Regions from separate parts of the Homo sapiens genome. Here all the other regions are linked to region 3. The links come from fine-mapping of genetic effects on gene expression. A gene starts in region 3. Each other region holds a variant in brackets. All regions are shown on one strand. Distances are from middle to middle.

Region 1 (7,575 bases), 28 kb after region 3:
CTTGAGGTCCTGTGCCTGGGTTACAGCTGGTGGTGTGTGGGTGCACAGTGATGGCCGGCCTCTGAGAGCTGGGGCGGGCCAGTGCGGCCTGACTCTGCCTGTAGGAAGCTCTAGAACAGGTCACGCTGATCTGCAATGAAAAGTCGCCTCTGGAGGGGGTGCAGTGGGGACTGATGAGCGCATATCTCGGGGGTGGTCAGGTTCTTATCTTGGTGGAGTCCGCTTTTGTCAACTCCCTGAGTGACACCCTTGAGATCTGTATAGCATGCTGGGTTGAACTGTGACTCCCAAATTCATATGTTGAAGTCTTGACCCCTGTATCTCAGAATATGCCAGGGCAGAGTCAGCAAAAAGAGGAAAATCTCCAGCCGGTTCCCCAGCTCTGAGCCTGTACCTGCCTTGGGGCCAGGAGAGGCTGAGGTGTGGGAAAAATGCATATTTGGGTTCCTCTGCCAGAGCATGGTCCTCCGTGGAGTCGGCCTCCTGCAGAGGGGAGCAGCAGGTGCTGTTGCATGCTACCGTCTCCCCTGAGCCTCTCAGGGTCTCCTTAGGAAGAGGGTGCATGTTCCCTCCCAGGTGCAGCTCACCCCTACCTCTGCCCCCCACATCTCCCTCCCCCCGCCCCAGGCAGCCCCCAAGACTTTCCTTGCCCTGAACTCCCATCTGCCTCCCGGGTCTGTCCTCTGTCCCTGGCTGCTCGGGTCAGCGTGGCCTCCGGTTCTCTCCCTTTCTGTCCCTTTTGCACTCTGGCTCCCTCTCTAGGCTGCGGTGCAGTGAGGACGCTGCCCAGGGCTGGAGGCTGGCGGGAGGTTGGGTGTGATGTGAGGCTGTGTTGCCGGCTGTTCTGGGGATGCTGACAACATTAGCGTGGCTCATGTTTATCGTGGGTCTAGCTCCCCTTGTACAGACATGGTCCTCTTCCCTTCCTCCGCGGAGGCAGAACCCTGATGCGTCGTGGGGCATGTAGCTGGCCAGAATGAAAACCTGCATCTCCCAGCCTCCTCCCTGAGGCTAAGTGGAGCCGAGCTGCTAAGTCGTGGCCAGTGGGTTAAAGGCAGAAGTGCTGTAGGAGACTTCCAGGAAGATGGCTCAAAAACAAGCTGACTCAGCTGGGACTTCTGGGAGGGGCCCTTTTCTGCCCTGTACTTTTCCAGCTTTCTTCCACCTGTCCTGTGGTCTTGATGGCTGGAGCACCAGCAGCCACCTTGGACCATGGAGTGGCTTTGAGGCTAGACACTATGCGTGGAGGACGAGGAGCAGGACAGCCAGGATCTGGGTCCCTGAGGACATCGAGGAGCTGCCACCTCACCCTCAATCAGTCATCCCCAGATTCTCCCTTCAGAAAGAAATCAGCTTCTTTCTTGTTTATGCTTCTTTTGCTGGGATTGTCATATGCAGCGAAACCAAACTGTGGAGTCCCGATCAGCTGATAGAAATGAGGAAGGGGTTCCCTCCTCTGCACAGCTCCATGGCACCACAGGCCCTAGCTGGCAAGAACATGAACTAGGGTCGGGGAGAGCCGTTGTTCTAAGAAATGGCTAACCACAAGCAGCCCGCTTGCACAACCTCATGTTACCAAATACCTCACTCTGCACGTTAGCTCCAGCAGCATGACCCTGTCTGCATGGGGCCTCTCCAGCGTGACCCTGTCTGCATGTGGCCTCTCCAGCGTGACCCTGTTTGCATGTCGCCTCTCCAGTGTGACCGTTTCCACATGTAGCCTCTCCAGCATGACCCTGTCTGCATGTGGCCTCTCCAGAGTGACCCTGTCTGCATGTGGCCTCTCCAGAGTGACCCTGTCTGCATGTGGCCTCTCCAGCGTGATGCTGTCTGCGTGGGGCCTCTCCAGCGTGACCCTGTCTGCGTGGGGCCTCTCCAGCGTGACCCTGTCTGCGTGGGGCCTCTCCAGCGTGACCCTGTCTGCGTGGGGCCTCTCCAGCGTGACCCTGTCTGCGTGGGGCCTCTCCTGCGTGACCCTGTCTGCGTGGGGCCTCTCCAGCGTGACCCTGTCTGCGTGGGGCCTCTCCAGCGTGACCCTGTCTGCGTGGGGCCTCTCCAGCGTGACCCTGTCTGCGTGTGGCCTCTCCAGAGTGACCCTGTCTGCATGTCGCCTCTCCAGCATGACTGTATCCACATGTGGCCTCTCCAGTGTGACTCTGTTTGCATGTGGCCTCTCCAGCATGACCCTGTCTGCATGTCGCCTCTCCAGTGTGACCCTATCAAACTTCCCCCTGGCCCCTGCCCCTGGGGAGGTGGCCTTCTCTCTGCCATGCTGCCTGCTGTTCTCTTGCAAGGTGTCTTCAGACTTTCTTTACCCACGACTGTCTCGGTAAATTCTTTTACCACCCGTGACACCAGCCCCAGCCAGTTGCACCTGCAACACTGGCTGCAGTGGATTCCTTGTTGCTGATACTCCACATAACGTTGTTAGGTGTCATATATGATCATTCTTTAACAGAGGGGCAAGCTGAGGCTCAGAGAGGTTAAGGCACTTGCTCAAGGTCACACAGCAGAGAGGTTGTGAGTAAGCCAGGCTGCTGGCTTAGAACACTGCCATGGCATTTCTCAGATCACCTCGCTCAGGGACTCCTGGCAGTTCCCCCTGCGTCATAGCGGTGAGTCTGTCCAGGATGAGCCACTCCAGGCTACCGAGGGCCAGCTGGAGGGCCTGCAGACACCTGCTGTGGAGTCAAGGTCCACACCATCAGCCGGAAGAGAGGTCTCAGGAGGGGCATTAGTGTTTGTCCTCGCTGTGATTGCACTGACTGACAAATCAGCTGTGGGACAATGGAAAACACAGTAGCAGCTTGTTACTGAGAAGGGAGGACTCAGGGTGGACCTGACCCCTCTGCAGATGGCTTGGTGAGAACGTGGCCTGCCCTGTTGGCTCCTCCCTCTGGGTATTGGAATTGCCGGGCAGCCAGAGGCTTACCTGGGGTTACTGGCACCCAGGGAGGAGAAGCCCTGAGCTGTGCGGCTGCTGAGGAAGGCTGTCTGCAGGGGAGAGCCCGAGCGCTGAAGGAGGCCAGTGGGCTCAGCCCGATGTCTCCATTCTCCTTCCTACAGCAACCAGGGTGCTTGGAGCAACCAATTGCCCCCCCTTACCTGGTAGGGATGCTAGGAGGGAGAGCGAGCCATTCCTCTAACATCAGTGACCATGTCTTGGTTCCAAAACCCCTTAAGCCTTGGGTTATTTATCAGCAAAAAGAGAAGGGAGGTGCTCAGGGGGTCTTCGTGGAGATCCCCTGCTCCCCTCGCCTTGAATGTGGAGAGGGCCCAAGACTCCCTAGGGAAGGCAGGTGATATAGACTCCAGGTGTGCCCTGCTCCGTCCTCGGCACCACTCTGCAGCACCACAGGCAGTCTGGGGTGCAGATAACATCTCCCTGGGCACAGCTTCGCACCAGGGCATGCTGGGGTACAGCCACACTTGCACAGCCTGTGGATCCCTGCAGCCTGGGGATTGGGCTGCTATTCCCACTGCAGGGAGGGAGGTGGTCGGAGGTAGGGGCTGCTCCTACCTAGGTACTTCTGGCCTCACCAGAAGAAGGGGGAGGGTTTGCACATTGAGTGGC[G/A]CCTGCTCCATGTTTGTGCCTGTATTTACATCATTATTCTGAAGGCCAAGAGATTGGACCTGCCGGAGCTCCATGCACAGACCCTGTGCAGGTGCATGTGGGCTTCTGGCTTCCTGGTGTGCACAGCCCCTTCTCTCCCTTCTGGACTGTGGCAGTGTACTAGGGACATTGTAGCCACTGTGTAAAGTCTCCCGCTTTCTGGGACAATTTTATTCACTCATGTGTGTTGAGAGCTTGTTTTGTGCTGGGGTCCCTGGGGAGAACGCTGGGTTCACTCATAGTTCCACAACAAGAGACCTGTGGCCTTTGTTGTGGACAGGGGCCAAGAGCACGTAGAGAAGGCGCTGAATGCTCCTTGGCTTCCAGGGGAAAGATCAGGACTGGAAGGATGTGGGAACTGCCCAAAGCTACAGAATCTGCTGTCTCAATGGCTGAGCAGGGTGCAGAGTGCATGCGGCTGTTTGTTCTGTGGCACTGGTAACCTTGGCACTTCTCCAGGTGTGAAGGACAGCATGGGAGTGAGCCTGTGAAGTTGTAGGCAGAGTCCAGGCAGCCCCGAGCCTGGGTTGGTTGTAGCTGTCAGAGTGGCAGCAGGTGGACAGAGGGGATGGGCTCGGGGGGAGGCGGGGGGACCCGCTTGAGTGGGAGTCAGCCTGGGGGCATCTCAATCCCTCTGATGCCTGGTTTGGGTCCCCAGCACTACTTAGCCCACCCCACTGAGCCTGTCTGTGCCTGGCCTGGCACTGGTGATGCAGGGACTGAGTCAGGCAGGGCACGACCCAGAGAGCCCATGGGCAGACAATGTTGGTGCTGCATGCCCGGGCTTAAACCAGCAAGCCTGATTCTGAATGTCCACAAGCTCTTGGCTGGTGGGGCCACAGGACTGGGACCCAAGCCTCCTGGCGACATGGGTGAGGCCATCTGTCATCGGTCCTTCTCTCAGGCCACCTGGTTCCCTGTGACTCACTTGGTGTTGGCCAGGTGCATGGATGCAGATCTGAGCAGACAGTCCCTGTGTCCCCAGTCTGGTTGGGGGTGCAGGGGTCTGGAGCCCATGTGAGCCTGGTGAGAGCCTGGGAAGGAACCACTTTTTCCATGGCAGAGCTGAGTGCAAAGCACGCTGTTGCACTGCTCTGGTGGTGGCATTTTACTCTGTAACCTATTCATCCACACACTCATGTATTTCTCCACCCACCCATTCATCTACTTATCCACCCATTCACCCATCCATCCACTTATCCATCCACCCATCTACACATCCATCCATCCACCCACACACCCATCCACCCACCCACCCATCCACCCACCCATCCATCCATACACCCACCCATCCATCACTTATTTGTTCATCTATCCATCCATTCCCCATCTGTCCATCCACCTACTCACCCATCCATCCACCATCCATCCAACCATCCATTCATGCATCCATCTACTCATCCATTCATCCATCCATCCACCCATTCACCCACCCACCCATCCACGTATTGACCCATCCATCCACCCATCCATCTACCCATACTTCCATCTATCCACATACCTGCCCATGCACCCACTCATCCATCCACCCACCCACTCACCTATCCACCCATCCACCCATCCATGCATCCATCCATCCATCCCCCCACCCACCCGCCTCGTCCCTCCATCTGAAGGTCATTACGGAACAGCTGTGAAGCTGAGATGCTGGGGACCCAGTGGTTACTCAGGACAGTCATGGACACTGCCCTCTAGGCTGTGCTTCCTGGCAGGCAGAAGCAGCGAACAGGACCCTTTGCAGATAGTGGTGTCTGCTGTAAAGGAGAGAAAACAGCGAGAGTAAAAGAGTTGAAGAGCTACTGGGGTCTCCTGGGACTCTTTTCCATTCTGAGTCCTGAGCCCACCGAGAAGTAAGGCATGAAGGCAGGTGCTGGAAACCCAAAACCCTTCTATCAGTGCCAACTCCTCCATCAGGTTGTAAACCAAAAGATATCTGAGACAGGTCTCAATAAATTTAAAACACTTATTTTGCCAAGGTGAAGTAAGGGCCTGTGACACAGCCTCAGGAGGTCTTGACGACATGTGCCCAAAGTGGTCAGGGTACAGTTTGCTTTTTTTTTTTTTTTTGTTATTTTATTTTATTGAGATAGAGTCTCACTCTGTTGCTCAGGCTGGAGTGCAGTGGTGCGATCTCGGCTCACTGCAACCTCCGTCTCCCGGGTTCAAGCAATTCTCTGTCCCAGCCTCCCCAGTAGCTGGGAATATAGGCGCATGGTACCATGCATGGCTAAGTTTTTGTATTTTTAGTAGAGACAGGGTTTCACCATCTTGGCCAGACTGGTCTCGAGCTCCTGACCTCGTCATCCACCTGCCTTGGTCTCCCAAAGTGCTGGGATTACAGGCGTGAGCCACCATGCTTTCTTTTGTACATTTTAGGGGGACATGAGACATCAATCAATATGTGTAAGATGTACGTTTGTTTGGTCAGGTAAGGTGGGGCAGCTTGACAACTTGCGGGGGTGGGGGACTTCCAGGTCATAAGTAGGTAAGAGACAAACTGTTGCATTCTTTTGAGACCTTGATCGGCTTCCCACTGAAACACAATTTAGTCTGGCTCAGGGAATCTGTATTTTTATATCAACAATAGGGCAGAGGAAGCCATCAGATATGGATTTGTCTCAGGGGAGCAGAGGGATGGCGTTGGGTCCTGTCTGTCATTTGTCTATGAGGAATTTCCTCATGGGCAAATTTTGAGGGAGGTAGTGGCTTTTTAGTCTCTGTAGCCATCTTATTCAGGAGTGGACTGGGAGGCAGGTTTGCCTGAGCAGTACCTAGCTTGACTCTTCCCTTGGCTTGGTAATTTTGGGGCCTGAGATTGATTTTCCTTTCACAGGGTGTAGCAGGCTTAGTGCCAGGGCCCAGGAGACTTTTAGGGGTCAGGAAAGTGGTTTAATGCCTTCTAAAATCAGAATAAACACAGTGCAGCCTGGGCTGTAGTCATCTTTCTACAAACGCAGTTATGAAACATCATTCGTAATACTTTAGCCCAGAGGAGGGGCCCACAGAGGCTGTGATGCCAGGCTGCCCGTTATTCCCAATGGAGGCTGGTCGGAGGACGCGGCTCAGAGTGAAGGCCAAGGGGGCCTTCCCTGAACCCCAGAGTGGAGGGGCCACCTGCCCAAAGGTGCAGCCCAGGCCAGCCTCCAGGGAGCCCCCACCTGTTCAGCAGAGCAGGCCACCCCTGCAGGTGGCAGCGGAGAGTGAGCTCAGCCTGCCCTGCAGACCCCGCCTGGATTTGCCAACCCCTCCCTGCGTGGGGGTGGGTGACAAATGGTGGGAGAGAGGCAGGGGTCGGAGAAGTCAGTTTTCTCCACGTGGAAGGAGGCTCGGGAGTTGGGGAGGACACCCCCACCTTCCCCGGCCTTTTGTTGCCCTACCCAAGGGCCTCGTGGTCACACTTGTGGTCAGCTGGGGGGCCGCCCCTAGGGAGAGGAGAACTGTCGGGGTCCCCTTCATGAAGCCACTCCCAGGACTGCAGGGGGCCGTTTGGGTTTACCCCCCATGAAACTGCCTTTGCAAAAATTATAAGTGAGGAAATGATGACAGTGAAAGAAATCAGACCTAACCGACTCCATATTCCTTCTAACCTTTAAGCTGTCCTTATTCATCCCTGGGCGTAGGCCGAACTAACTTTGGGAAGGAATTCAGTTCATGGTTTGACTCTGAAACAAAACTGATAACAGCCCTTTCCCGAATAGACCCCCTTCTTGCCTGAGGACCAGTCGGCCTTTGTAGGACTAACAAATTAGCTGCAAGATTAGAAATTATGGTTTAGGGGTCTTGCGGCCTCCGGCTGTGAGAGTCTGAACCTCCCCAGATTGCTTCTGGGGATCACCTCACTATTGTAAAACCTGAGATCAGTGCTGGGGATATTCTGCAGACCCCGCACTCATGGATCAGCTGACACCACCTAGACCAGTCATCTGACTCAACCAGTTCCGCCATCCCACCCAGGAACAGAA
Region 2 (7,575 bases), 23 kb before region 3:
TTCCCCCCAGCTCCAAATCCAGCATCCCTCCCCGGTGCCTAGCCCTCGCCAGGCTGCTGGCCCCATCGCTGGGAAGGAGTGGTTTGACCCCTCACCACTGAGAGGAGTAAGGTGTACTTCCTTGTCAAGCATGACTCCGAGCGGCACTTCTTCCACACCGCGCAGCTGCCTGTGCCTGGCAGGGGCCTCCTGCGGCCGGAACGTCCCCTGCATCCCCAACCACACCTGGCACAACACCATGGCTGAGGTGCGCTTCCAGCTGCACCAGCAGCCCACACGCCTCCTGAGCACCACTACCAGCTACCCCAAGCCCGTCTATACCAGCTACCCCAAGACCGTCTATACCAGCTACCCCAAGACCGTCTATACCAGCTACCCCAAGACCGTCTATACCAGCTACGCCAAGACCGTCTATACCAGCTACCCCAAGACCGTCTATACCACCACCCTGGATTACAACTCGGCAAGATGCTGGGGAGGTTTCTGTTAGGGTGGAGCTGGAAGCCATCAAGTTCCTGGGTAGAGATGACCTTTCAGATGGATGCTGACCCAGCAGGCTGGGCTGAGCTGGGACCAGCTCTTCCACTGCCCTGCTCCGAGCCTGCTCTGGTCAAGGTGGGCAATGCTGCCCTTCATGTACTTCCAGCCCCGGAGGAGCTGAACCTAGAGATACCTGGAAACCCAGCTTAGGGAAGTAAAAAAAAAATCACTGCATCTCATAATTATTGAGATATTTTTAAATTTTCAAGCTTTTTTTTTTTGAGACAGAGTCTTGCTCTGTTATCCATGCTGGAGAGCAATGGCACGATTTTGGCTCACTGCAAACTCTGTCTCCCAGCTTCAAGTGATTCTCGTGCCTTAGGCTCCCGAGTAGCTGGGATTATAGGCAGATGCTGCCACCACTCCTGGTTAATTTTTGTATTTTTAGTAGAGATGGGATTTTGTGATGTTGGCCAGGCTGGTCTCAAACTCCTGGCCTCAAGTGATCTGCCCGCCTCAGCCTCCCAAAGTGCTGGGATTCCAGGCGGGAGCCACCCACACTTGGCTCAAGCTGGGTTTTTTTTTTTTTTTGAGGCGAAGTCTTGCTCTTGTCCCCAGGCCGGAGTGCAATGGCGCGATCTCGGCTCACTGCAACCTCTGCCTCCCAGGTTCAAGCCATTCTCCTGCCTCAGCCTCCCAAGTAGCTGGGATTACAGGTGCCTGCCACCATGCCTGGCTAATTTTTTATTTTTAGTAGAGATGGGGTTTCACCATGTTGGCCAGGCTGGTCTCAAACTCCTGACCTCACGTGATCCGCCCACCTCCACCTCCCAAAGTGCTGGGATTCCAGGCATGAGCCACCGCACCCGGCCGGCTCGAGCTGTTTTTAAGAGGATATATCCTGGTTTGCTGCTGTGTAGTTTCCCCAAAGTCTCAATTTGATGAGAAAATAGAAAGACCACTAGAACGGAAAAATAAAAAATAAAAATTAGATTTCATCAAACTGGAAACCTTTGCTTTCCAAAAGATAACCATTAAGAAAGTAAAATAGCAAGCCAGAGGATCGGAAATTATTCACAACACATATCTGAGGAAGGACTCACACCTAGACCTGGGAATAACGCTAAGACCAGGCTGGGTGTGGCGGCTCCCGCCACCTGTAATCCTGGCACTCCGCGAGGTGGAGGCAGGTGAATCACTTGAGACCAGGACTCCGAGACCAGCCTGGGCAACACAGCGAGACCCAGTCTCTATAAAAAAAACCTTTTCTTTAAATTAGCAGAGCATAGTGATGCATGCCTGTAGTCCCAGCTACTCAGAAGACCGAGGTGGGAGGCTCGCTTGAGCCCAGGAGTTTGAGGTTGCAGTGAGCTATGATCGCACCACTGCACTCCAAGCCTGTGCGAGAAAGATCCTGACTCAAAAAAAAAGACAAGATTTCCAAGACCCAGTTTTTTAAATAGGCAAAAGAATTAAGTAGGCCCTTCCCAAAGACGCCACCCAAATGGCCAAGAGCAGACAAAAAGGTGTCATGCCTCTGGCACCAGGGAAGTGCAAGTTACTACAAAACGAAAACAAAAGAATCAAATGGATTTAATTGTCTTTTTGTTACTGATTTCCTCCTCAATTGCACTCTGGCCAAAGAATGTGATTTGTATTATTTACCTACATATCATATATTTATACATTATCATCTGCGAATTACTGACATTTGCTTTGGGTCCTAGTACCTCGTCCATTTTTAAAAGATTCCATGCGTGCTTAAGAATGTTTTCTCTAATGGGCATAAGTAGACCAAGTTTTTAACTGTATTATCCCATTCTTTCATATTCTTCATCAATGATCTAAGCCTCTATCAAAAGAACCTAAAACAAGGACAGCAAATTGAACACAAAATAGGTAGAAGAAAGGAAATTCATAAGAAAAGAGCAAAAGTCAATGAAAAAGAAAACAATAGAAAAAAAAAATCAATGGACCCAAAAGTAGGTTTCTTTGGGGAAAATATCTGTAAAAATGATAAACTCTTAGCTAGTCTGATCAGGGGGAAAAGAAAACACAAATGGCCCAGAGCAGGAATGAGAATGGACATCACTGCACAGAGGATACTGTGAATGATTTATGTAAATTGTTTTGATAACTTAGATGAAATTCTGCGACAAACCTATCTTTAAAAAAATGACAAAGGAAGAAACAGAAAATCCAAAAGCCTCATGTCTTTTTTTTTGAGACAGAGCCTCGCTCTGTTGCCCAGGCTGGAGTGCAGTGGTGTGATCTCAGCTCACTGCAACCTCCACCTCCTGAGTTCAAGTGATTCTCCTGCCTCAGCCTCCAGAGTAGCTGGGATTACAGGCATGCACCACCACACCCTGCTAATTTTTATATTTTTAATGGAGACGGGGTTTCACCATGTTGACTAGGTTGGTCTCAAACTCCTG[A/C]CCTCAGGTGATCCATCCACGTTGGCCTCCCAAAGTGCTGGGATTACAAGCGTGAGCCACCATGCCAGGCCTCATGTCTATTTTTAAAAATCAAGTTCTTAATGAAAAACCTAAGCAAAAAGAAAATGGCAGGCATAGATGGCCTCACCCATCACATCTCTATGAAACAAATAATGCCAATCCTATACAAACTATGGCAGAACTTGTTTCAGGAGGCCCACTTAATGCAATATCAAACCATGACAGACACATCACATGACAAGACAATGAACATCCAAGCCCAGTGTCCCTCAAGAGCATTCCTACACAGGAGGTCCTTAGCCCGGTATGAGCAAATCTCATCTGGCCATGCAGAGAAAAGGCCAATGCACCATGGCCACAGGGACTTACCTGGAAATGCCAGGTCATCTTGGCATATGAAAGTCAGCGTAATTCACTACAGTAATGCGGTAAGGAAGTGACCTCATGAGCATCTCACTAGGTGCAGGAAAGGCAGCTGACCACATTCAACACGGATTCAGGAAAAGCCCTCAGCAAATGAGGAAGCTCTTCTGCCTGTAAGTGCACCAGTGCAAACCCAACACTGAGCCGGGAGAGACTGAGCCCATGTTCACCGAGACTGGGAATAAGATTAGCGAGCGCCGGCTCACCTCACCAGTGCAGTGAGAAGCCGAGGCACAGACTGACAAGGGGAAGCAAAGCCACTGTCAGACAGAGGACACGCGTGTGCACACGGAAACCCCACGAGTCCACAGAAACACCGCCATGGCCAAGGCGGGAGTTTAGGGCACAGGATTAAAGCACCACGCACAGGTGACAAATGAAATAAAAATACACAGTCCTCAATAGCATATCGAACACCTAGGACTAGATCTAAAGGAAAACATGCCAGACACATGCACAGAAAACTCCAGTTCATTGTTGGGAGAAGTTGAAGATGAACTCAATACCTGGAGTCATACATGGCAGTCAACGCATGGACACCGGAGACTGTTGAGACGCCGACTGGAGTCACACACGGCAGTCAACGCGTGGACACCGGAGACTGTTGAGACGCCGACTGGAGTCACACACGGCAGTCAACGCGTGGACACCGGAGACTGTTGAGACGCCGACTGGAGTCACACACGGCAGTCAACGCGTGGACACCGGAGACTGTTGAGACGCCGACTGGAGTCACACACGGCAGTCAACGCGTGGACACCGGAGACTGTTGAGACGCCGACTGGAGTCACACACGGCAGTCAACGCGTGGACACCGGAGACTGTTGAGACGCCGACTGGAGTCACACACGGCAGTCAACGCGTGGACACCGGAGACTGTTGAGACGCCGACTGGAGTCACACACGGCAGTCAACGCGTGGACACCGGAGACTGTTGAGACGCCGACTGGAGTCACACACGGCAGTCAACGCGTGGACACCGGAGACTGCTGAGACGCCGACTGGAGTCACACACGGCAGTCAACGCGTGGACACTGGAGACTGCTGAGACGCCGACTGGAGTCACACACGGCAGTCAACGCGTGGACACTGGAGACTGCTGAGACGCCGACTGGAGTCACACACGGCAGTCAACGCGTGGACACTGGAGACTGTTGAGACGCCGACTGGAGTCACACACGGCAGTCAACGCGTGGACACTGGAGACTGTTAAGACACCGATTCTTCCCAACATGTATTCAAGACATTCAGAAAAGGTATTCAAAAATGCGTTCAAGGGAATTGCTATTGAAATTCCAGAAGGCATGTTTTTTTGGTAGAAATTGAGACACTGATTGTAAAACATATATGGAAACACCAAGGACATAAACAGCCACAAGAATCTTTAAAAAGAAGAGTTGGAAAATGCACATCACCTCGATTCAGGGTTTATTATAAACCCAACTGTAGCCAAGACAGTGTGGCGGCCGGGCACCATGGCTCACACCTACAACCTGTAATCCCAGTAGTTTGGGAGGCTGAGACAGGAGCATCACTTGAGCCCAGATCAAGACCTGCCTGGGCAACATAGTAAAACCCCGTCTCTACAAAAAAAATAAAAATAAAAAAAATAAAATCAGCCGGGTGTGGTGACACACGCCTGTGGTCGCAGCTACTACTCAGGAGACTGAGGCGAGGGGATTGCTGGAGTATGGGAGGTCAAGGGTGCAGTGAGCTGAGATCACGCTACTGCACTCCAGCCTGAGGGACAGAGCAAGACCTTGTCTAAAGTGTGGCAATGGCAAGAGCGTAAGGACAAACAGAAACAGACCCACACAGGTAGGTCAGTTGATTTCTGACAAAGGCGCCAAATTAGGAGAAAAAAGCCTATGCAGCAAATAATCTGAAAGTTAAGGGAGAAATGGATCCTGACTGCAACCCACACTGGAAACGTACACTCCTGAGTAGGGACTGGATACACACGCGGCACACACCCACACAACAGGCCGCCACGCGGCAATCAGGAGTCTGCCGCTGATCCACGCAAAAGCCTGGGTGAATCTCAGATGCTGAGCGAATGTAAGCAGATACACGCAGACATACACAGACGCACGCAAAGACACAGACTGCCCAGAGCCATGCACGTGGAACCCATGGCAGGCGGGAGGTAGGGAGCTGCGGTGGTAGGAGTCAGAATGGGTACCCCTGTGGGACTGGCTCTGCGGAGTGGAGGGCATCACCTACATCCTTCGTGAGTGCGCACCATGACCAGCCACACCCATGGAACTAACACTCGGTATCTGGGTTTTTTGTGTAACTGCCTCCCCTCAACACCATGGTCTCCCACATACAAAAGAGGCCATTATACAGTAAGACACGCTACTCCGCAATTAGACACCACAAAACGCCAGCCAGGCTGTCCATAATTAAAAATACCGAGCACCAAGTCTCAGCAATCCACTAGTGTTCTCCTTCCACCCAGCTGGGAGAAAGAAACACAGTCCAACCACTTTGGAATCATCTCTATACTTGGACAACACGCTTCGTAAGATCCATTAGGTGCTCCTAGAGTTGGCCCCCACCCCCACCCCCACACGAGTGTTCACCACAGCTATTTCCAAGTGAGTGTTATTACCCCAGAAAGGAAGCAACTCAAATATCCACCCACAATAAAGTGCATTAAAATCAGAGCACAGGACAGTCATGCAATGGAATACTATACAGCAATGAAAAGGAACACACTTCTGCTAGATGACAGGGCTGAGTCTCACCAACACACTGAGTACCTTAAGGCTCTCAGGATAATGGGAAAAAAAAGAACCAGAATCCACCCCCCGCCCCACCAGCCACACACACACAAGTCCACAAAGGAACAGGCACCCACATGCTGTACCCTGGGGCCCTTCCAACCCTGATGCGCCAACTCCCGACATGCTGCCTCTAGCCTTGACCTTTCTCAGAAATGATAGCTTAGCGGATGTTTGGCAGATCTCAACAGTCAAGCCAAGATCCAGCTGCAGTCAAAACACAATACGCCTGGTGGAGCCTCTTCCAGGTTCAAACACGGGAACCACGCTCGGAGCTGGACCCGGACCCGAGCCTCTTCCAGGCTCAGACACGGGAACCACGCCCAGAGCCGGACCCGAGCCTCTTCCAGGCTCAGACACGGGAAGGGAACCACGCCCAGAGCCGGACCCGAGCCTCTTCCAGGCTCAGACACGGGAAGGGAACCACGCTCGGAGCCGGACCCGAGCCTCTTCCAGGCTCAGACACGGGAAGGGAACCACGCTCGGAGCCGGACCCGAGCCTCTTCCAGGCTCAGACACGGGAAGGGAACCACGCTCGGAGCCGGACCCGAGCCTCTTCCAGGCTCAGACACGGGAAGGGAACCACGCTCGGAGCCGGACCCGAGCCTCTTCCAGGCTCAGACACGGGAAGGGAACCACGCCTGGAGCCAGACCCGAGCCTCTTCCAGGCTCAGACACAGGAACATTCTCGGAGCCGGACCTGAGCAACCGCCAGTCCATCAGCTATGGTCAGAGGAAGGCCTCCGTGGCTGTCTCTCCCCCATGAGATGGGGCATTTACACAGCACACTTAGGGACACGGAGGCCCTGCAGGTTTGGTGAGGTCTCCCGAGGTCCCTGAGCTGCAGAGGTGAGAGTTGAAAGACGCTGCCCCCAGGCCACAGTCTCTGACTGTCCACAGAACCACACGCTCCACATCTTCCCCTCAAACTCAACTCAAGCGCTCTTGGCTTTAAATCAGGCCGGGCCGTCTCACGGGAAAAGGAGGTTGGCTGCAAAGACCCACAGGGCCCAGAGGGGAAGCTGGCTATGACGCGATCCCTTCAAGAGCACTGGCTCCGGCCCCAGCCACCAGGACACTTAGTGACCAGCCAACAAGCGGGTGGTTTAAATACTGCACTCTATTTTTTAAGGACTCTGTGCATGGTATTTCCGGTGGCAGATGTGTAAGATTTTTTATGTAAATCGTGTTGTTTTAGCAGAGGACTATCAGACCTGACAGCAGCTGGACATCGAGGTCCTCACTGGGGTGGTGACTGCCACGCTGATGCTGAGTGGAAGCCAAGCCCCTTCAGTCAGAGCTGGGCCGATCTCAGACCCAAATGCTACCACCACCAAGCCCTGTGTCGCGACGGCAGCGGCTGCAGTCACCAGAAACAATCCTTCCTGCCTCGACACCCGTGCCAGCCCCAGCCACCCTGACGGCGGGCT
Region 3 (7,575 bases):
GTCTGGATTCTTTCACCTCTCTCAAGTTAAATGTTAACGCATCAAGTTAGAAGTACCCTGTGGAAACCAACTGCAGAAAAGAACCTGTCAAACATGAAGCAGCGAGGCAAATCATCAACAACCAGGGTATACATGCAGGCAAGAAAGCCGGCTCAGCTGATCAAACGACGCCGGTCCTGTGTCCCCAGACACAAGCAGAGCCGACCGTGTCCTCCTGACCAGACCCAAGGGCCCAGCACTGCTTGGGACCTCAGCAGTGGCCCTTCCCCACACAGCACCACCCGCGTGCCAGCAGAGCTTTCTGGAACTTTCCAATAACCTGCTGCTGCTTCTCAACGCCCCAGGAAACCCAGGCCAGGGTCCACAGCTACACCACTGGTGTCAACCTGCACACACCGCACAGTTCAGGCTGGGCAGGTTCCAATGCCACCAGGACCGCCAATGGACCACCTCTTCAGAGGGCATGTGCCATCCTCCCAGCGCTCACCTGAGTGCCCGCGCCAGACTGCAAGGCACCCACCATGAGGAGCAGGCTGTGGCGGTGACCAAGGCTTCCTGGCACGCTGTACCTGTCTCACCACGGCAGGTGGCATGCACTGTCCCAGCCCAGCCACTGTGCCCCAGCTCCTTCCACCTGAGCTCCGTGGACAAGGGCACAGCCGTACCCGCCTTGAGCTGCTGTGAGGTCATGCATTGGCCTGGCGAGTCCTAGGTGCCCATGGAGGCCACTGGCTGGCCCATCCTCAGAGGCCCTTCTCAAGCCAGGGGGGACGCTTGAGAGCTGGGGTGGGGCTCTGAGGGCTCCTCTCTGCAGACCTCAGTTTCCACTCGTCAGACCTCTGAGAACAAGATGCTTCACACACTCTCATTGCAGTCACCATTCACGTCAGAACTAAGGACTGTCTGCGTGCGGTGCCTCCTGGGACTACACCTGTAATCCCAACACTTTAGGAGGCAGAGGCGGGAGGATCACTTGAGCCCAGGAGTTCGAGACCAGCCTGGCCAACATGGTGAAACCCCGTCTCTACTAAAAATATAAAAATTAGCCAGGCATGGTGGTGCATGCCTGTAATCCCAGCTACTCAGGAGGCTGAGGCACGAGAATCGCTTGAACCTGGGAGGCGGAGGTTGCAGTGAGCCGAGATCACGCCACTGCACCCCAGCCTCGGCGACAGAGTGAGACTCTGTCTCAAAAAAAACAAAAAAACAAAAAACCAAAAAAACTAAGGACCTATGGCCAAGGACTCCGAGCTCATGGCACCGTGCAGCCCAGGCCAAGAGGTACACGAGTGTGTCCCTGAGCGCCGCAGCTGGACCATGCAGACCCTGGAGCTTACTCCTCAGCATCAACACAACACACAGAGCTCTGAAGAGGCAGAGTCCTCAGAAGTCGTCTGTGAGCACAAGGGCTCTGCATGGCCTCTGACCTCCAAAGCTCCAGGGACAGCCTCTGCTCAGGAGTCTTGCAACACAGTGGAGCCCGCCTGTGAAAGAGGAACTGGGAGAGTCACAGAAAGTCAAGATTCAAGTTGCTGGAGAGGATGAAGCAGCACCCCCCTGGCCGGGTCTCGCCTGATGAAAGCGGGTCTCAGCATCTTCTTGGCGGCAACCTCAACGCAGGTCTCACAGCCCAAGCCCATCAAAGGCAAAGGTTTCCTGAAACGCTCCCTTCACCCTATGCCTACTGACACACTACGCAATCCTATATGCCAGGATGTGGCTTTACATGCAGAAAACAGGGACACGATGTTTTCATGAAGCAAACCAAAGAAAGGACAAGACCGTCCTGGCTGCTGAGCGCAGGTCGCAGGAGGCTGAGAGCAGTGGCTGCAGAGCCGGGCAGGAAGTGCTTCTCTGAAAAAGCAGCCCTCACCTCAATTATCTTCCAGGGGGCGATCCAAGACCCCGTCTCCGTCTGATACCTACCTAGAGCGGCGAGTCAGGTGGGGTAAGAAGCCGACTGGAGTGACTATTTGCACGAACAATTCTCTCCCCCTACGTTTGAACTGACTGTGGCTCCTCCTGCCTCCTGACCACCCTGGGCCCTGGCACGCTCGGCAGAAAGAGCCACAGCACAAAGACCACCCGGGATGCACTACCGCCACTGAGAACCTCAAAAAGACCCGGACGGGTCTGACGCCTGCACACTTGGCTCCAGGATAGAACACCCTCACAGCACCGCCACCCTCCAAGCTTCCGTTATCTGGAAGGAAAATCAGGACGAATGGGCTCTGCAGGCCTGCCTGCCATAGTACCAGGCTCTCTGGAATGGGGGAAGACACACAAAATCCCCCAAAACACCCTCACCCCCGAAGAACTTCACGTTCTGTTCAGCAAAAAAGACTTGCCCACACAACTAGAACTTCAGGACTTAAAGGGACCAGAAAGATCATCTAGTCCAAGGCTCAGTCCAAAGTGGAGGTGAGCAGCTCGCCCTACCATGGTGCCCAGTGAACCTCAGGGAGGTTTAGGAGACATGACCCAACCCAAGACTGAAACTGGTCAGGCGAGCACCCAGCACCGGGGGACAGTGCAGGGGCAGCCCGAGGGTAGCTGGACCAGTGCAGGGGCAGCCTGAGGGCAGGTGTATTGCTGCAGGAGGCCTGGGCTGACAAAGACAGAGGACCAGCTGGAGGTGGCTGGAGGTAAGGTGGAGCGCACCAGGGCGGCCCTGCAGAGCAGGTGGAAGACTTGGGCCAGCACCCAAAAGGGAGCCGCTGGGGTTCCTGGGTCCGAGTGCACTTCCTCAGCGCCACCTCCAATCGGTCAGGGAGTCTATTTCGGGCTCCCCATTCCTCATGGGGAGGGGGGACTCCACCCACTCAACAGATGCCCAGTGCAGTGGGCACGGGGAGGCAGCACTGCATCCCGGCTGCTCCTGGTCACACCTGTTCCCTGCTGCTGGGAGGCCATCAACACATCCAAACCCAGCCGTGTCCCCAGCCCCTCCAGAATCCCTTCCTCCAAGAAGCCGCCCTGCCGCTCCAGCCCAGAGCGTTCTCCCACCTCCCACCTCCGCAGGCTGAACATTACGCCTGGGGCTTGACTGCTGGTCCCAGGAGCAGTTCAGGAAGGGCCTGTGGAGCTGATGCCCAGGCGTCAATCCCCATCCCCACGCAGTCTTATAACCGTCTGTCGTCTGTCTGTCCCCCACCTGTTTCTCCTCTCCCTTTTCGTTCCAAAAGTTCCTTCTTATTCTGCAAATCACTTACTTTCCCTCTCAAAGACTCAGGAATGCTTAAAACTGGACTATTGAGACAGAGATCTAATCTGACTCCTGCATTTGAGATGAGATAATGAGGCCCAGATGGTCGGCATAGTTCGAAAACACCCATTTCAGGTGTTTTCAGGAACACCTAACAAATGAAGCAACCGTATCTTAATGAAGAGAGCAGCTGGCCCAGGGTCACGCACCAATTAGGAAGCTGTTGTCCCGGGGGGCCCCACCGGCCGAGCCACCTTGGGGGTGCCCTTTCCCCTCGGGGCCTCCGTACCCTCATCTCTCAAATGAAGGAGAGGTCAGGTGAGCGCCCTGTTAAGACTGACTTTCAGCATTCCCAAGGTCGCGTTTTATGTGCTCTAAACCGATCCCATCTCCTCACCTCCTCATTTCTCGCTCAAATGAACAAGCACGGGCTTGCTACTGGGATTCCTTCTGTCCCTGGACACGTCTTTCTACCCAACATTTTGTTTTTCTTGTTTCCCCACATAGGGAGATAAGGTTGAGGGAACAGGCAAAGGCTCGGGAGGCAGGAGACCTGTGATCTAGCCTGGTTCTGTCCCTACGCTCGGGTCAGCAGGCCGCCCAGGCTGGGGAGGGCGACACTGACCCTCGGGGTGCCGGCCGCCACCTGCTTCACACGGCGTCGTCGCCGGCACGGGTACCTTTCCTGCTGCAGAAGGGGTCGGGGCGCCCCACCTGACACTTGGGGGAGGCTGTGCCAAGGACAGGGCGCGTAGGGCACAGGTGCCCCGGCTGCGCCCCCCTCCGCCTCCGACCCCTGGGCCCCGCTCCAACGACCCCAACCACGGCCCCCGCCCCCAGGCCCCGCTCCACCGACCGCGGGCCGCGCTCACTCGCTGGGCCTTCTCCCACAGCTGGTTCAACTTCTCCATGCGGAACTCCTCTCCGGACTCGCGTTTCGGGGACGGCTTGGGCTGGTTCTTCTCCCGCGAGTACTTGCCGCCGTGGCTCGCAGCGGGCCAGGGCCCGAGGAAGAGCAGCAGCAGTAGCAGCGCCGGGAGCCCGCGCAGAAACGACCTGACCCTCCGCGGCGCCATCTTCCTCTGCGACTGGCGCTGCGCGGAGAAAACCTAGCCTGCCGATGCCCCGCCCACTACCCCGCCCCCACCCACCGCGCGGTCTCCTGGGAATTGTAGTTCCTCCGTGAGCGGCCGGCAGCGGCGAGGCCGCCGGCGGACTCCAGCGCCTAGGAAGCCCTGCGCAGGCGCAAGCGTTTCCCAGGCAACCACGCCGCGGCCCGAGGCTGCAGACTCTGGCAGGGGATACAACTGGAGAATGAGGGTGGCCGGGTGGGAGCAGGGATCAGGCCTCACCCAGAGCCCGGAGCCTGGAGCCCGCACGACTCGAGGCCTCTTTCCCTCTCTGCCCCACAGAAAGAGCGGAAAGCCCAAGAACCGGGCCGCGTTTGGCTGAGCCTGATAATGCTCCGGCTTCACGCGCACTGACGCCGACTCTTGCATGTCCAGTGCCGTTGCGGGGTTGGCACTGCGGCCCGGGCCTGGCGCTGAGGAGCCTGGCCCAGCCCGCTTCTGCCCTCCGCGGAGCGCCTGGCCGTGGGTAAGCCCAGGCCAGGTTGTCCCGGGGACGCAGGGCCGCGCAGACGTCCCCCTACGTCCCGGGGCCCCTGCCCCAACCCGCGTCCCAAGCGCCTGCTCTCGCGCCTGCTGCAAGGCAGGACTTCGCGCGCTTTTCCCCAACCCATGACACTCTAGGAAATTCACAGAGCCAAAGTTAGCATAGACCGCTCGTTGGGGGCTTGGCCAGTGAGTTGGGAAGTGCCCTGGAGGTAGCGCGGGAAACAAGGGGAAGGAGGGAGACAGACAGCAGCTGGGCCCCTTTGGGCTCAGAGAAGGGACAAGGGGAGCTCATCTGGCAAGAATGATCTGAAAAGGCCTCCAAGGGTGGGCGGGATTTTGCGGGGGGAGGGAGGAATTTCCAACTGGAGGGACAATGACAAAGGGGGTGAATAGAGCCTGGGCATCTTGAGAGGAATTAATGTTAATTCATTTCCTTTTTTTGCGTGGGGGGATAGGGTCTCTGTCATCGAGGCTGGAGTGCAGTGGCATGATCATGGCTCACTGCAGCCTCGACCTCCTGGGCTAAAGCGATCCTCCTGCCTCAGCCTCCCAAGTAGCTGGAACTATAGGTGCGTGTCACCACGCCCAGCTAATTTTTGAAATTTTTTGGTAGAAATTAGGTCTCCCTATGTTGTCCAGGCTGTTCTCCAACTCCTGGGCTCAAGCAACCCTCCCGTCTTGGTCCCCCAAAGTGCTGGGATTACAGGCGTGGGCCACTGGGCCTACCCTAATTTACATTTAAATTGTATCTTGTGTTGTTCCAGAGAAGATTTCAGGTCCCTGGAATCAAGGTGATCTGCTTCTGTCCTGTGCTGCTTTTCTAGTATTTTCAGAGCCATCGTTTCATTTCTTTTTTTCCAGCTGTTGAGTTGTTTCAGGCAAGAGGGTAAATTCAGTCTGTTACTGCATCTTAGCTGGAAGCACAAGTTCCCAATATGGGATGTATGGGGGAGAGGAGGTAAAGGAATCCCCCAGGAGGGTGGTGGAGGGAGAATGACCTCATGCGAAGTGACTCCAGAGACAGATCAAATGCTGTCATTGCCATCATTGCATGTTTTTAAGCCTCAGGACAGAATGGCCAGGTGAGCCTGGCCTAGATTCTCACCTGTGCCTGCCTTCCCCTTGTGTTCCCTCGTTCCTGCTCTTCTCTCCATCTCCTGGTGCCTAGAATCAGAGGTCACCTGTTTTACCCCACATACATGTTTTGCCCTGACCCCACTCCTGAGAGCTACAGGTAGGTCTTGGTGGGCTTAGAAGGGGATAGTCCAAATTGGCCTATCCCCCCCAAGCATGTCCCTGTTGGTCATCTGGAATGTGGTCCTAACTGCAAATGTTCCAGCTCTGTGAATCCTGCCCCCAGTGTCTCTAGAAAGGCCCGTTATAAACCCACAGGAATTGGAAGCTGGACTGGGAGCAGAGTCTTCTGGGATCCTGCATCTGACAGTGGTGTGGGGTTCTAAGAGCCCTTTTCCTATACAGCCCGGTTTCCCAGATAACTAAGCAATATTTTATTCGTGGCTGCATACACAGGCAATGAAACTAAAGAAAGTCAGGGGATGGCTAAAGGATGGAGGATACCTGGGCTGGGGGAGGAGGGAGAATGCGACGGGTGAACACAGACAGGCTTCCAAAGTGGTGTCCAGGTTGTAGTTCTTCACTAGGTGGTGGGCACACAGGCATGCATTTTTCCTTATCTTTAAATTGTACATATTTCATACACTTCTCCGTATGTATTATACATTTCAAACTAGTACATCTTCTAAAAAATCACAGTGGTTAATGCAATCAGTACAGGTGCCAGGCACATACCAGAGACTCCAGGTGACGGCATGCTCTCCTCTTGGGCTCCTCCTCTAGGGCTGAAAGTTTATTTCTCACCCCTGCCGCCAGCACCCGCCATGCCAGCCCGTGTCTCTAAGTGCTGAGGGGAAGGTGTATGAACAGAGACAGATACGGCCGTGGAGGAACCCGGAGGGAGGGCCCTCCACTTGGTGAGGACGGATTGTGAGGCTGGTCAGTGCTGAAGCTGAGTATCTTGCTTACGAGAGAAAAGGGGAACTGTGCTTATAGGACCATCTCTCAGAGCAAAACAAATTGAGTCTCTTGGGAAGCCTGGCATTGAGGATTGTCCAGCTTTCAGAAGTGAGAGTGTTCAGCCTGACTTCAGGGGCACAAGGTTCTTGCTGCCTGGGCCTGTTCTGTAGTGTGGGGCTGTCCCTGACTGGCCGGCTTTCAGAAGCATGCAGCATTGTCATTGACTTATTGGGGTTTCATGCCACCACGGCCAAAAAGCAGTTTGTTTTTGTCCTTGAGTTTGGACTATAGATTGTTATTCTCTCCAGGCAAAGGCAGGAAGCACACGGGAACAGGTAGCGCCAGGTGGCTGCAGGCAGGTGGTCTGGCTGGAGCTCAGTGCAGAAGCACAAGACGGTGGTGAAGAGTGAGGCAGACCCAGGGGACTGAAACGCCACTGGAAGGAAGATTCCACCCAGAGCAATGGGGGCCACAGAGTGATCCTGAGGGGAGAGTTACACAGAGATGCGTTTGAGGAAAAGCAGAGACCAGTGGGAATGCTGGTGCTCTCCGCCAGAGGAGAGGCGAAGGTGATCGGGATGAGATAGAGACACGGAGGCAGTGAAGATGGAGAGGCCATGTGAAGGTGGAAGGGACAGAATTTGGTGACAAGCGTCCAGACTGACGCCCAGGTTTCCACTTGGGGAGACCAGAAGGTGGCAGGGCGAATTCCAATGCCAG

The links. PIP is the estimated chance that this variant, and not a neighbour inherited with it, causes the effect.
Region 1: its variant is fine-mapped to the expression of LRPAP1 in whole blood (TOPMed, PIP above 0.99).
Region 2: its variant is fine-mapped to the expression of LRPAP1 in whole blood (TOPMed, PIP above 0.99).

The regions. Positions count from the first base shown.
Region 1 is chr4:3,555,675-3,563,249 of GRCh38, forward strand. No RefSeq gene overlaps it. Among named protein-coding and RNA genes, the nearest start is that of LINC00955, 17 kb to the right of the region's middle. The variant G/A (reference allele first, on the strand shown) is at 3,575.
Region 2 is chr4:3,505,320-3,512,894 of GRCh38, forward strand. LRPAP1 (LDL receptor related protein associated protein 1) reads right to left here. Exons shown (of 8, transcript NM_002337.4): 8 at 1-7,575. Among named protein-coding and RNA genes, the nearest start is that of LRPAP1, 23 kb to the right of the region's middle. RefSeq lists an enhancer at 3,530-4,729. The variant A/C (reference allele first, on the strand shown) is at 2,916.
Region 3 is chr4:3,528,132-3,535,706 of GRCh38, forward strand. It overlaps LRPAP1 (LDL receptor related protein associated protein 1), which reads right to left and starts at 4,291. Exons shown (of 8, transcript NM_002337.4): 1 at 4,078-4,291. The coding sequence starts at 4,281. RefSeq lists enhancers at 1-23, 24-913, 4,071-4,280 and silencers at 3,781-4,030, 4,471-4,530.